3 separate regions of the Homo sapiens genome follow, and regions 2 and 3 are each linked to region 1. The links come from fine-mapping of genetic effects on gene expression. A gene starts in region 1. Each other region holds a variant in brackets. All regions are shown on one strand. Distances are between the middles of the regions.

Region 1 (4,078 bases):
ATCAAAATAGTCCTGAATAAAGTCTGACTTACTGTTTTAACAAGAGTCAGATTTTTTTCTTTAATAAGCGCAGTAGAAGAGGTGAACTGAAGAGGAGGGGCTGCAGTCATTGATGAAGACAAGGTCCAAGGCAAAACCACAGACTAACAAGGTAAGGTGGAGGTTGAGATTTATGGAAGCAGAGTTCAGTGACGGACAGGCCAGGGTATGCCAAGGGAGTGCTTATAACTAACTGACCCTGAAAAAGTTTTTTTTTTTTTTTTGAGACAGAGTCTCGTTCTGTTGCCCTGGCTGGAGTGCAGTGGTGCGATCTCAGCTCACTGCAACCTCTGCCTCCCAGGTTCAAGCGATCCTCCTGCCTCAGCCTCCTAAGTAGCTGGGACTGCAGGCGCATGCTTGAGTTCAGGAGTTCCAGAGAGGCCTGGGCAACATGGCGAAACCCGGTCTCTACAAAATATTTAAAAATTAGCCAGGCGTGGTGTGTGCCTGTGTAGTTCCAGGCACTGCGGAGGCTGAGGCAGGAGGATGCTTGAGCCGGAAATGCAGAGGTTGTAGTGACACGAGATCGCGCCACTGCACTCCAGCCTGTGTAATAGTTCCTGGATCAAAAAAAAAAAAAAAAAAAAAAGGAAATGTATCTGAAACTTTCCAAGCTCCAATTTCCTAATCTGAAAAATTGAAATAGCGGTACCTACCTCACAGAGTGGCTAATTTAATGCAGTGCTATTTGCAAGGGATAATTTATCAAACCTTTAGGCGTTGTTCTAAAGTGCCCATTAAATGCTCACTGAACTCACAGCCTTAGGAGGGAGGTTCGAGTTTATGCCCATTTTACATATGAGGACGCGTTGGCAGGTGGTACTGCTGTTCATGGGATCTGTAAAGAGTGAAGAAGGAGTCTCAGCTCTCAGTAGAGTTCATAGGCTCTAGGATTTCTGCTGGAAGTGAGAACACTGCAGGGAGGCAAGAAAGCGGGCATCAGACGGTGCAAAGCGACCCTGGGCCCAGATCGGCGGCCAATGGCTCCCTCCGGTGGCGGAAGCGAAGAGCGCAGCTGGATCGGGCGCGAAGGGAGGATCCCCGCAGCGGGTGAGGGGCGAGGCTGGGACCCGGTGGAGGTTCTAGGGTTTTGAGAGGTTGGAGGACTAGAACTCCAGAAGTCCCTGAACGAAGTGGGCCGGATTTCCCGTGACGCACCTGGCCCAGGTGTTGCAGCCCCGCCCACCTCCCTGCCGCTTTCCGCCATCCTCACACGCCCCCTTTAGTGGGGTGGCTGCTCACCGCACCTCGGAGCTCGGACTGGGGTCCGGCCCCTGCGGCGACGATTGTTTGTACCTAAGTGAAGGAGGCTCCGAGACCCGCGGCCCACGTCCTGCCGGAGACGCTTGTCTGCAGGGCTGCATTGCATCCCCGGGCGCACGTGGAGCTGGAGCAGCGCAGGCTGGGGAAGAGCAGAGAGGGTCGGGCTTCTCCGGGCGCGCCATGGGGCGGGGCCGAGGACGGGGACCAATAGCGCGCGCGTGCTGGTGGGGGTGGGGACAGGCTCCAGGCCTGGCATCCCGGTAGCCGCAGCTGTCTTTTCCGGCCCCCGTGCACTCTCCGCCCGAGCGGAGCCCCCCGGCTCGCGGGGATCGCCCCCGAGCGCTGCGTCCTGCGGGTGGGTGAGTGAGCGCCTCGCGGCCCCCGAGCTGTGGGGTGCACCTGGCCGGGGAGAAGGATATCTTGGCTCCCTTGCACCCCAACGGGCGCAAAGGGGCAGGAGCCCGGATTGGGGGAGGAGGAGGACCCGGGGACCTTGTGTCGCTCGGTGGGAGCCGGTCTGTGTTTCTGTTTCGCTAGGGTGTGTTTGGGTTGGTAGAGTTTGTGGGGAGGGGTGCCTCGTGTGGATGGGAGGAATCGGGGAGGCTAAGGCGAGGAGGAGGGGGTTTGAGATGGGTTGAGGGAGAGGATTGACGGAGGGTGGGGTTTTGAAAGAGTTGGAAGTTTCTTGTTACCTGTGGGTGCGGTGATTGCATTGGGGGGCTTGGTAGGGGCAGCTCAGGACACCGAAGGAGAGGATGGGGAAGGCTCTCCTGCCCGTAACTTACTTCCCTTTTGGGAGATTTGGTTCCTCTTGCATTGCTAGTTAAGGAAGGAGAGGCTGGAGAAGCCTGTGCCGTCAGAGAACCTTTGCCCCTTTCCAGAACCGGTGCCATCCCTAGTCTCAGGAACATAAGGGAAGGGGTGGCCCCCAGGAGCCGGGAGGGGCCTTGAAACCCCTGCTGACAGGTTTGGGGTACCACTTTTTTGTGGGGCAGTGGCTGGTACCATTTGCAGCCCACGGACTTTTTTGAGTTGCCGGTAAGCAGGGTGTGGGTGCGTTCCTGTTTCCTTGCGGTTGTCTCTTTTTTTTTTTTTATTGACACAGGGTCTCGCTCTGTCACCCAGGCTGGAGTGCAGTGGCATGATCTCGGCTCGCTGCAGCCCTACGCCTCCAGGACTCAAGCGATTCTCGTGTCTCAGCCTCCCAAGTAGCTGTGATTACAGGCATGCACCTTCACGCTTGGCTAATTTTTTTTTTTTTCTTGTGAGACGGAGTCTCACTCTGTCACCCAGGCTGGAGTGCAGTGGTGTGATGTCGGCTCACTGCAACCTCTGCCTCCTGGGTTCAAGGGATTCTCCTGCCTCAGCCTCCCAAGTAGCTGGGACTACAGGCATGAGCCACCATGCCCAGCTACTTTTTGTATTTTTAGTAGAGACGGGGTTTCACCATGTTGACCAGGGTGGTCTCGAACTCCTGACCTCAGGTGATCCACCTGCCTCGTCCTCCCAAAGTGCTGGGATTACAGGCATGAACCACCGAGCCTGGCCAATTTTTGTATTTTTAGTAGAGAGCAGCTCTGTCTTTTGGGGAGGCTTCAGGGTGTTTGATTAGTGGTCTTTGGGGGTGGGCGAGCTCTGTGGGGGAGCTTTTGATGCAACATAATCTCCTTTGCAGGTCACCTAACCCATTTGTGGCTTCCTCTACCTGTGCTCAGCCATGGCCAGCGAGAGCTCACCTCTGCTGGCCTACCGGCTCCTGGGGGAGGAGGGGGTTGCCCTCCCTGCCAATGGGGCCGGGGGTCCTGGAGGGGCGTCTGCCCGGAAGCTGTCCACCTTCCTGGGTGTGGTGGTGCCCACTGTCCTGTCCATGTTCAGCATAGTTGTTTTTCTGAGGATTGGTGAGTGGGTCCTGGGGCGGGTGTGGACTGACTATAGTATGGGAGGACATGATGGGGAGGGGTGGAGATGGGACTGGGATAAGATTAGGAAGGGGACCCAAGAGAAGCGGTTGGCTGAAGGGTTTGGGGAGGGGCTCTCTGTGGGCTTGCATTTAGCTCCACCCTGGAGCTCTGCAGAACCAGGGGGTGGGGGATATGGGGTGTGAGTCCCCTGTGACCTGATTTGCTGCTCCTGCCTCAGGGTTCGTGGTGGGTCATGCTGGGCTACTGCAGGCCCTGGCCATGCTGCTGGTTGCCTACTTCATCCTGGCACTCACCGTCCTCTCTGTCTGTGCCATCGCCACCAATGGAGCCGTGCAGGGGGGCGGAGCCTACTGTATCCTCCAACATCGATGGACTGGGGTCTGGCCTGTTCTGCCTGCTAGGGAGGGTGTGGAAGGGGCCATTACCTTTGTTGGCTCAGGGGCAAGACAAGTGTTTTTTTCATTCTTAAAATTTTTTTAGGCTGGGTGCGGTGGCTCACATCTGTAATCCCAGCACTTTGGGAGGCTGAGGTGGGTGGATCACTTGAGGCCAGGAGTTCAAGACCAGCCTGGCCAACATAGTGAAACCCCGACTCCACTAAAATTACAAAAATTAGCTGGGCATGATGGCACCCGCCTGTGATTCCAGCTACTCGGGAGGCTGAGGCACGAGAATCGCTTGAACCTGGGAGGTGGAGGTTGCAGCGTGCCAAGATCGCATCACTGCACTCCAACCTGGGCAACAGAGCAAGACTCTGACTCCCAGGCTGCAGTGCAGTGGCGCCATCATAGCTCACTGTGATCTCGACTTCCTGGGCTCAAGTGATCCTCCTATCTCAGCCTCCTGAGTAGCCA
Region 2 (4,078 bases), 73 kb after region 1:
AGGCTGCTCCTCGCCAGGCTGAGCCAGGTCCTAATTCTTCCTCAGCCTCTGCTCCCCCACCCTATAATCCTTTTATCACCTCCCCTCCTCACACCCAGTCTGGCTTATAGTTTTATTCCACGACTAGCCCTCCCCAACCTGCCCAGCAATTTCCTCTTAAAAAGGTGGCTGGAGCTAAAGGCATAGTCAAGGTTAATGCTCCTTTTTCTTTATCTGAACTCTCCCAAATCAGTTAGCATTTAGGCTCTTTCATCAAATATGAAAAACCCAACCCAGTTCATGGCTTGTTCGGCAGCAACCGAGACACTTTACAGCCCTAGACCCTAAAAGGTCAAAAGGTCATCTTATTCTCAATATACATTTTATTATCCAATCCACTCCTGACATTAAATAAAACTCCAAAAATTAAATTCTGGCCCTCAAACCCCACAACAGGACTTAATTAACCTCACCTTCAAGGTGTACAATAATAGAGTAGAGGCAGCCAAGTAGCAATGTATTTCTGAGTTGCAATTCCTTGCCTCCATTGTGAGACAAACCCCAGCCACATCTCCAGCACATGAAAACTCCAAATGCCTGAACCGCAGCTGCCAGGGATTCCTCCAGAACCTCCTCCCCCAGGAGCTTGCTACAAGTGCCAGAAATCTGGCCACTGAGCCAAGGAATGCCCACAGTCCAGGATTCCTCCTAAGCTGTGTCCCATCTGTGTGGAACCCCACTGAAAATTGGACTGTTCAACTCACCTGGCAGCCACTTCCAGAGCCCCTGGAACTCTGGCCCAAGGCTCTCTGACTCCTTCCCAGATCTTCTCAGCTTAGTGGCTGAAGACTGACACTGCCCGATCGCCTTGGAAGCCTACAGGACCATCACAGACGCTCTAGGTAAGTCTCACAGTGGAGGGTAAGTCCGTCCCCTTACTCAATTCGGAGGCTACCCACTCCACATCACCTTCTTTTCAAGGGCCTGTTTCCCTTGCCTCCATAACTGTTGTGAGTATTGACAGCCAGGCTTCTAAACCTCTTAAAACTCTCCAACTCTGGTGCCGACTTATACAACATTCTTTTATGCACTCTTTTTTAGTTATCCCCACCTGCCCAGTTCCCTTATTAGGCTGAGACATTTTAACTAAATTATCTGCTTCCCTGACTGTTCCTGGACTACAGCCACACCTCATTGCTGCCCTTTTCCCCAGTTCAAAGCCTCCTTTGCATCCTCCTCTCATATCCCCCCACCTTAACCCACAAGTATAAGATACCTCTACTCCCTCCTTGGTGACCGATCATGCACCCCTTACCATCCCATTAAAACCTAATCACCCTTACCCCGCTCAATGCCAATATCCCATCCCACAGCACGCTTTAAAAGGATTAAAGTCTGTTATCACTCGCCTGCTACAGCATGGCCTTTTAAAGCCTATAAACTTCCCTTACAATTCCCCCATTTTACCTGTTCTAAAACCAGACAAAACTTACAGGTTAGTTTGGGATCTGCGCCTTGTCAACCAAATTATTTTGCCTATCCACCCCACGGTGCCAAACCCATATATTCTCCTATCCTCAATACCTCCCTCCACAACCCAATATTCTGTTCTGGATCTCAAACATGCCTTCTTTACTATTCCTTTGCACCCTTCATCCCAGCCTCTCTTCGCTTTCACTTGGCCTGACTGACACCCATCAGGCTCAGCAAATTACCCGGGCTGTACTGCCTCAAGGCTTCACAGACAGCCCCCATTCCTTCAGTTGAACCCAAATTTCTTCTTCATCTGTTACCTATCTCAGCATAATTCTCATAAAAACACACATGCTCTC[C/T]CTGCTGATCGTTTCCAACTGATCTCTCAAACCCCAGCACCTTCTACAAAACAACAACCCCTTTCCTTCCTAGTCATGGTTAGATACTTTTGACTTTAGGTACCTGATTTTGCCATCCTAACAAAACCATTATATAAACTCACAAAAGGAAACCTAGCTGACCCCATAGATCCTAAATCCTTTCCCCACTCCTCTTTCCATTCCTTGAAGACAGCTTTAGAGACTGCCCCCACCCTAGCTCTCCCTGACTCATCCCAACCCTTTTCATTACCCACAGCCGAAGTGCAGGGCTGTGCAGTTGGAATTCTTACACGAGAACCCACACTGCGCCCTGTAGCCTTTTTATCCAAACAACTTGACCTTACTGTTTTGCCTAGCCCTCAAGTCTGCGTGCGGCGGCCGCCACCACCCTAATACTTTTAGAGGCCCTTAAAATCACAAACTATGCTCAACTCACTCTCTACAGTTCTCATAACTTCCAAAATCTATTTTCTTCCTCACACCTGACACATATACTTTTTACTCCCTGGCTCCTTCAGCTGTACTCTTTGTTGAGTCTCCCACAATTACCATTGTTCCTGGCCCGGACTTCAATCTGGCCTCCCACCTTATTCCTGATACCACACCTGACCTCCATGACTGTGTCTCTCTGATCCACCTGACATTCACCCTATTTCCCCATATTTCCTTCTTTCCTGTTCCTCACCCTGATCACACTTGGTTTATTGATGGCAGTTCCACCAGGCCTAATCACCACACACCAGTAAAGGCAGGCTATGCTATAGAACAAGCCACTATCCCACCTCTTAGAACCTCTCCTTTCCTTTCCATCATGGAAATCTATCCTCAAGGAAATAACTTCTCGGTGTTCCATCTGCTATTCTACTACTCAGGGATTATTCAGGCCCCCTCCCTTCCCTACACATCAAGCTCAGGGATTTGCCCCCACCCAGGACTGGCAAATTGGCTTTATTCAACATGCCCCGAGTCAGGAAACTAAAATACCTCTTGGTCTAGGTAGACACTTTCACTGGATAGGTAAAGGCCTTTCCCACAGGGTCTAAGAAGGCCACCACGGTCATTTCTTCCCTTCTCTTAGACAAAATTCCTCGGTTTGGCCTTCCCACCTCTAGTCCTATAATGGACTGGCCTTTATTAGTCAAATCACCCAAGCAGTTTCTCAGGCTCTTAGTATTCAGTGAACTAATGGTCTTTTAAAAACACACCTTACCAAGCTCAGCCACCAACTTAAAAAGGACTGGACAATACTTTTACCACTTGCCCTTCTCAGAATTCAGGCCTGTCCTCACAATGCTACAAGGTACAGCCCAGTTAAGCTCCTGTATAGACACTCCTTTTTATTAGGCCCCAGTCTTATTCCAGACACCAGACCAACTTAGACTGTGCCCCCAAAAACTTGTCATTCCTACTATCTTCTGTCTAGTGATACTCCTATTCACTGTTCTCAACTACTCATAAATGCCCTGCTCTTGTTTACACTGCCAGTTTACACTGTTTCTCCAAGCCATCACAGCTGGTATCTCCTGGTGCTATCCCCAAACCGCCTCTCTTAACTCTTAAAGTAAATAAATAATCTTTGCTGGCAAGGCTGTGCTGAACCTCCTTAGGCACTCTAATTAGATGTCCTAGGTCCTCCCAATTCTTAGTCCTTTGATACCTGTTTTTCTCCTTCTCTTATTCCATTTAGTTTTTCAATTCATACAAAACCATATCCAGGCCATCACCAGTAATTCTACACGACAAATGTTTCTTCTAGCAACCCCACGATATCACCCCTTACCACAAAATCTTCCTTCAGCTTAATCTCTCCCACTCTAGGTTCCCACGCCGCCCCTAATCCCGCTCGAAGCAGCCCTGAGAAACATCACCCATTATCTCTCCATACCACCCCCCAAAATTTTCGCCGCCCCAACACTTTACCCCATTTCATTTTATTTTTCTTATTAATATAAGAAGACAGGAAAATCAGGCCTCTGAGCCCAAGCTAAGCCATCATATCCCCTGTGACCTGCACGTATAAATCCAGATGGCCTGAGGTAACTGAAGAATGACAAAAGAAGTGAAAATGGCCTGTTCCTGCCTTAACTAATAACATTACCTTCTGAAATTCCTTTTCCTGGCTCATCCTGGCTCAAAAGCTCCCCCACTGAGCACCTTGTGACCCCCACCCCTGCCCACCAGAGAACAACCCCCCTTGGACTGTAATTTTCCTTTACCTACCCAAATCTTATAAAACCCCGCTCTCC
Region 3 (4,078 bases), 110 kb before region 1:
GGGGCCGACACCCCCACCTCCCTCCCGGACGGGGCGGCTGGCCGGGCGGGGGGCCGACCCCCCCACCTCCCTCCCGGACGGGGCGGCTGGCCGGGCAGAGGGGCTCCTCTCTTCCCAGTAGGGGCGGCCGGGCAGAGGCGCCCCTCACCTCCCAGACGGGGCGGCTGGCCGGGCGGAGGGCTGACCCCCCCACCTCCCTCCCGGACGGGGCGGCTGGCCGGGCAGAGGGGCTCCTCACTTCCCAGTAGGGGCGGCCGGGCAGAGGCGCCCCTCACCTCCCGGACCGGGCGGCTGGCCGGGCGGGGGGCTGACCCCCCCACCTCCCTCCCGGATGGCACGGCTGGCCGGGCGGGGGGCTGACCCCCCACCTCCCTCCCGGATGGGGCGGCTGGCCGGGCGGGGGGCTGACCCCCCCTCACCTCCCTCCCGGACGGGGTGGCTGCCGGGCGGAGATGCTCCTCACTTCCCAGATGGGGTGGCTGCTGGGCGGAGAGGCTCCTCACTTCTCAGACGGGGCAGCTGCCGGGCGGAGGGGCTCCTCACTTCTCAGACGGGGTGGTTGCCAGGCAGAGGGTCTCCTCACTTCTCAGACGGGGCGGCCGGGCAGAGACGCTCCTCACCTCCCAGACGGGGTCTCGGCCGGGCAGAAGCGCTCCTCACATCCCAGATGGGGCGGTGGGGCAGAGGTGCTCCCCACATCTCAGACGATGGGCGGCCGGGCAGAGACGCTCCTCACTTCCTAGATGTGATGGCGGCTGGGAAGAGGCGCTCCTCACTTCCTAGATGGGATGGCGGCCGGGCGGAGACGCTCCTCACTTCCCAGACTGGGCGGCCGGGCAGAGGGGCTCCTCACATCCCAGACGATGGGCGGCCAGGCAGAGACACTCCTCACTTCCCAGACGGGGTGGCGGCCGGGCAGAGGCTGCAATCTCGGCACTTTGGGAGGCCAAGGCAGGCGGCTGGGAGGTGGAGGTTGTAGTGAGCCGAGATCACGCCACTGCACTCCAGCCTGGGCACCATTGAGCACTGAGTGAACGAGACTCCGTCTGCAATCCCGGCACCTCGGGAGGCCGAGGTTGGCGGATCACTCGCGGTTAGGGGCTGGAGACCCGCCCGGCCAACACAGCGAAACCCCGTCTCCACCAAAACCAGTCAGGCGTGGCGGCGCGTGCCTGCAATCGCAGGCACTCGGCAGGCTGAGGCAGGAGAATCAGGCAGGGAGGTTGCAGTGAGCCGAGATGGCAGCAGTACAGTCCAGCTTCGGCTCCGCATGAGAGGGAGACCGTGGGGAGAGGGAGACGGAGACGGAGACGAGGGAGAGGGAGGGGGAGGGGGACGGGGACGATCTGACTTATTTTTTAAGGATTTTTTTTGTGTTGAGAATCCACTGAGGAGAACAGGCAAGGGTCGATGCAGAGAGGCTGTTTAGGAGGCTTTTGCAAAAATCCAGGCGACACTCTTTCTTTTTCTTTCTTTTTTTTTTTTTGAGACAGAATCTTGCTGTTGCCAGGCTGGAGTGCAATGGCACGATCTCAGCTCACTGCAACCTCTGCCTTCCGGGTTCAAGCGATTCTCCTGCCTCAGCCTCCCGAGTAGCTGGGATTACAGGTGTGCGTCACCATGCCCAGTTAATTTTTTGTATTTTTAGTAGAGATGGGGTTTCACCATGTTGGTCAGGGTGGTCTCGATCTTCTGACCTCGTGATCCACCCACTTGGCCTCCCAAAATGCTGGGATTACAAGCGTAAGCCACCATGCCTGGCTGATATTCTTTCTTTCTATGCACCCAAGTCTATCCCTAGCTTCTTTCCACCACCTCCCTGTGCACTCAGCTGAGCTTCTTTCTCTTTCTACTGTTGACTTCTTCCTTTTCTCTCTCACACAACATTCACTTTCTCTCTTAATCTTCTCACACAGCCCACATTTCAACCCCTCACTGAGCCAAGCACTGTAGGTCAAGCATAGAGGGTTCTGCTCCCTAATTTCCTGAGTTTATAATTCTTATTTTTGAATTTAAAAAAATGTTTTTAAAAACTAGGCCAGGTGCAGTAGCTCATGCCTGTAATCCCAGCACTTTGGGAGGCCGAGGTGGGCAGATCACTTGAGGCCACGAGTTCAAGACCAGCCTGGAACATATAGTGAGATCTTGTCTCTACAAAAAATACAAAAATTAGCCCAGT[G/A]TGGTGGCACACACCTGTAGTCCCAGATACTCGGGAGGCTGACGTGGGAGGACTGATTGAGCCTGGGAGGTGGAGGTGGCAGTGAGCTGTGATCGCACTACTGCACTCCAGCCTGGGCGACAGAGTGAGATTGTGTCTCAAAATAAATAAATAAATAAAAATAGAGATGGGGTCTTGCTACATTGCCCAGGCTGGTCTCAAACTCTGGGCCTCAAGCCATCTTCCTGCTTCGGCCTCCCAAAGTGCTTGAAGTACAGGTGTGAGCTGCCACGCCCAGCCTATATCTCTTTGTTCTTCTTTTCCCTTAATACTTATCCTTTCTCAATCCATTTCCTCCCTTCCACTTTACCATTTCCACACTTTATTTTATTTTCTTTATTTGTAAAGATGGGGTCTTGCTATGTTGCCCAGGCTGGTCTCGGACTCCTGGCCTCAAGTGATCCTCCTGCCTCTGCCGTATTTTCTTTTCTGTTTTTCCCCATCTTTTCCTCTCTCCACTCCATCAGTGTCCACTTGGACTCCTGCACTCCTGTCTCTGATCTTTCCTGCTGCCTAAACTTTGTTTTCTAGAAGGGCCCTGGCCAGGCGTGGTGGCTCATGCCTGTAATCCCAGCACTTTGGGAGGCGGAGGCAGGTGGATCACCAGAGGTCAGGAGTCCGAGACCAGCCTGGCCAACATAGCGAAACCCGTCTCTACTAAAAATACAAAAAATTAGCTGGGCTTGGTGGTGTGCACCTGTAATCCCAACACTCGGGAGGCTGAGGCAGGAGAATTGTTTGAACCTGGGAGGCGGAGGTTGCAGTGAGCCGAGATAGCGCCACTGCACTCCAGCCTGGGCAACAGAGTGAGACTCCATCTCAATAAAAATAAATAAATAAATACGTACATAAATAAATAAGGCCTTAAGAAGCCCTGGCCCCACCTTCACTGAAAGCCGACCAGCCCTCTCTGCAACCCCTCAGCATTTAGCACCGTGTACCGCGCCCAGCAGCTTCAGTAAATGCTGGTTGGCTTTTTATTTTTCCTTTCTTTCCCTTTCCTTTTCCATCTTGCTCGCTTCCTTATATTTTCTTCACCTTTCACTTCTTTTTCTCCCATTTCTCCTCTTCTGTTTCTCATAGGTCTCCTTGGTTTTTTTTTTGTTGTTGTTGTTTGTTTGTTTTTTGAGACAGTCTCGCTCTGTCGCCCAGGCTGGAGTGCGGTGACGCGATCTCAGCTCACTGCAACCTCCGCCTCCCGGGTTTAAGCGATTCTCCTGCCTCAGCCTCCCGAGTAGCTGGGATTACAGATGCCCGCCACCACGCCCGGCTAATTTTTGTACTTTTAGTAGAGACGGGATTTCGCCATGTTGGCCAAGCTGGTCTAGAACCCCTGACCTCAGGTGATCCGCCCGCCTCGGTCTCCCAAAGTGCTGGGATTACAGGCGTGAGCCACCGCGCCAGCCCGTGTCCTTGATTTCTCTTTCATCATTTTCCCACTTCCTTTCCTTTCCCTTCCCTCTTCCTTCCCGGTTGTTTCCTTTCTTCTCCTTCCTCCCGCCCATTCCCGCCATTCCAGCCTCTTCGCCGCCGCTCAGGATCCCACCTTCGGCAGGAGTGAGCGCGCGCCAGGCAAGACTCCCTTGGACTCGGGCGTGAGCACGCACGCGAGCGCGCTCCCCACGAGTGGCAGCCGCTTACATTTTCTTTTTCGCTACCAGTTGCGTCACCTAGCGAGGTCCACGCTGATTGGCTGTCTGAGCTGGGGGCCGAGGTGGTGTTGGGTGAGAGGGGGTTTGCCTCTTGCTCCTCTGTGTCAGAGCCGCTGTATCTCTCGCCAGTTTGCGTGAATAGGTTATGTCCAGCGGGTAAAGAAAAGGAAGAGGCAATCGGGTGTAGTGGCTCAAGCCTGTAATCCCA

Alleles and levels. Alleles are on the strand shown, and positions count from the first base shown. SD is a standard deviation of normalised expression in the study named. Not every link is listed here.
As copies of C replace T in region 2, the expression in anterior cingulate cortex of the gene that starts at base 1,535 in region 1 goes up (small effect, 0.27 SD a copy in GTEx).

What was found. PIP is the estimated chance that this variant, and not a neighbour inherited with it, causes the effect. A credible set is the group of variants that fine-mapping cannot tell apart.
Region 2: its variant is the best candidate, but not a certain one, in a credible set for the expression of SLC12A9 in anterior cingulate cortex (GTEx, PIP 0.51).
Region 3: its variant is the best candidate, but not a certain one, in a credible set for the expression of SLC12A9 in aorta (GTEx, PIP 0.80).

Annotation. Positions count from the first base shown.
Region 1 is chr7:100,851,179-100,855,256 of GRCh38, forward strand. It overlaps SLC12A9 (solute carrier family 12 member 9), which reads left to right and starts at 1,535. Exons shown (of 14, transcript NM_020246.4): 1 at 1,535-1,657; 2 at 2,978-3,200; 3 at 3,442-3,576. The coding sequence starts at 3,020. SLC12A9-AS1 (SLC12A9 antisense RNA 1) reads right to left here and starts at 1,436. Exons shown (of 2, transcript NR_146550.1): 1 at 1,336-1,436. RefSeq lists enhancers at 752-951, 1,022-1,171 and a silencer at 1,462-1,771.
Region 2 is chr7:100,923,810-100,927,887 of GRCh38, forward strand. No RefSeq gene overlaps it. Among named protein-coding and RNA genes, the nearest start is that of MUC3A, 24 kb to the right of the region's middle. RefSeq lists an enhancer at 3,672-4,078. The variant C/T (reference allele first, on the strand shown) is at 1,812.
Region 3 is chr7:100,741,559-100,745,636 of GRCh38, forward strand. All of the region lies in intron 7 of ZAN (zonadhesin), which reads left to right. Among named protein-coding and RNA genes, the nearest start is that of ZAN, 10 kb to the left of the region's middle. RefSeq lists an enhancer at 3,718-3,767. The variant G/A (reference allele first, on the strand shown) is at 2,180.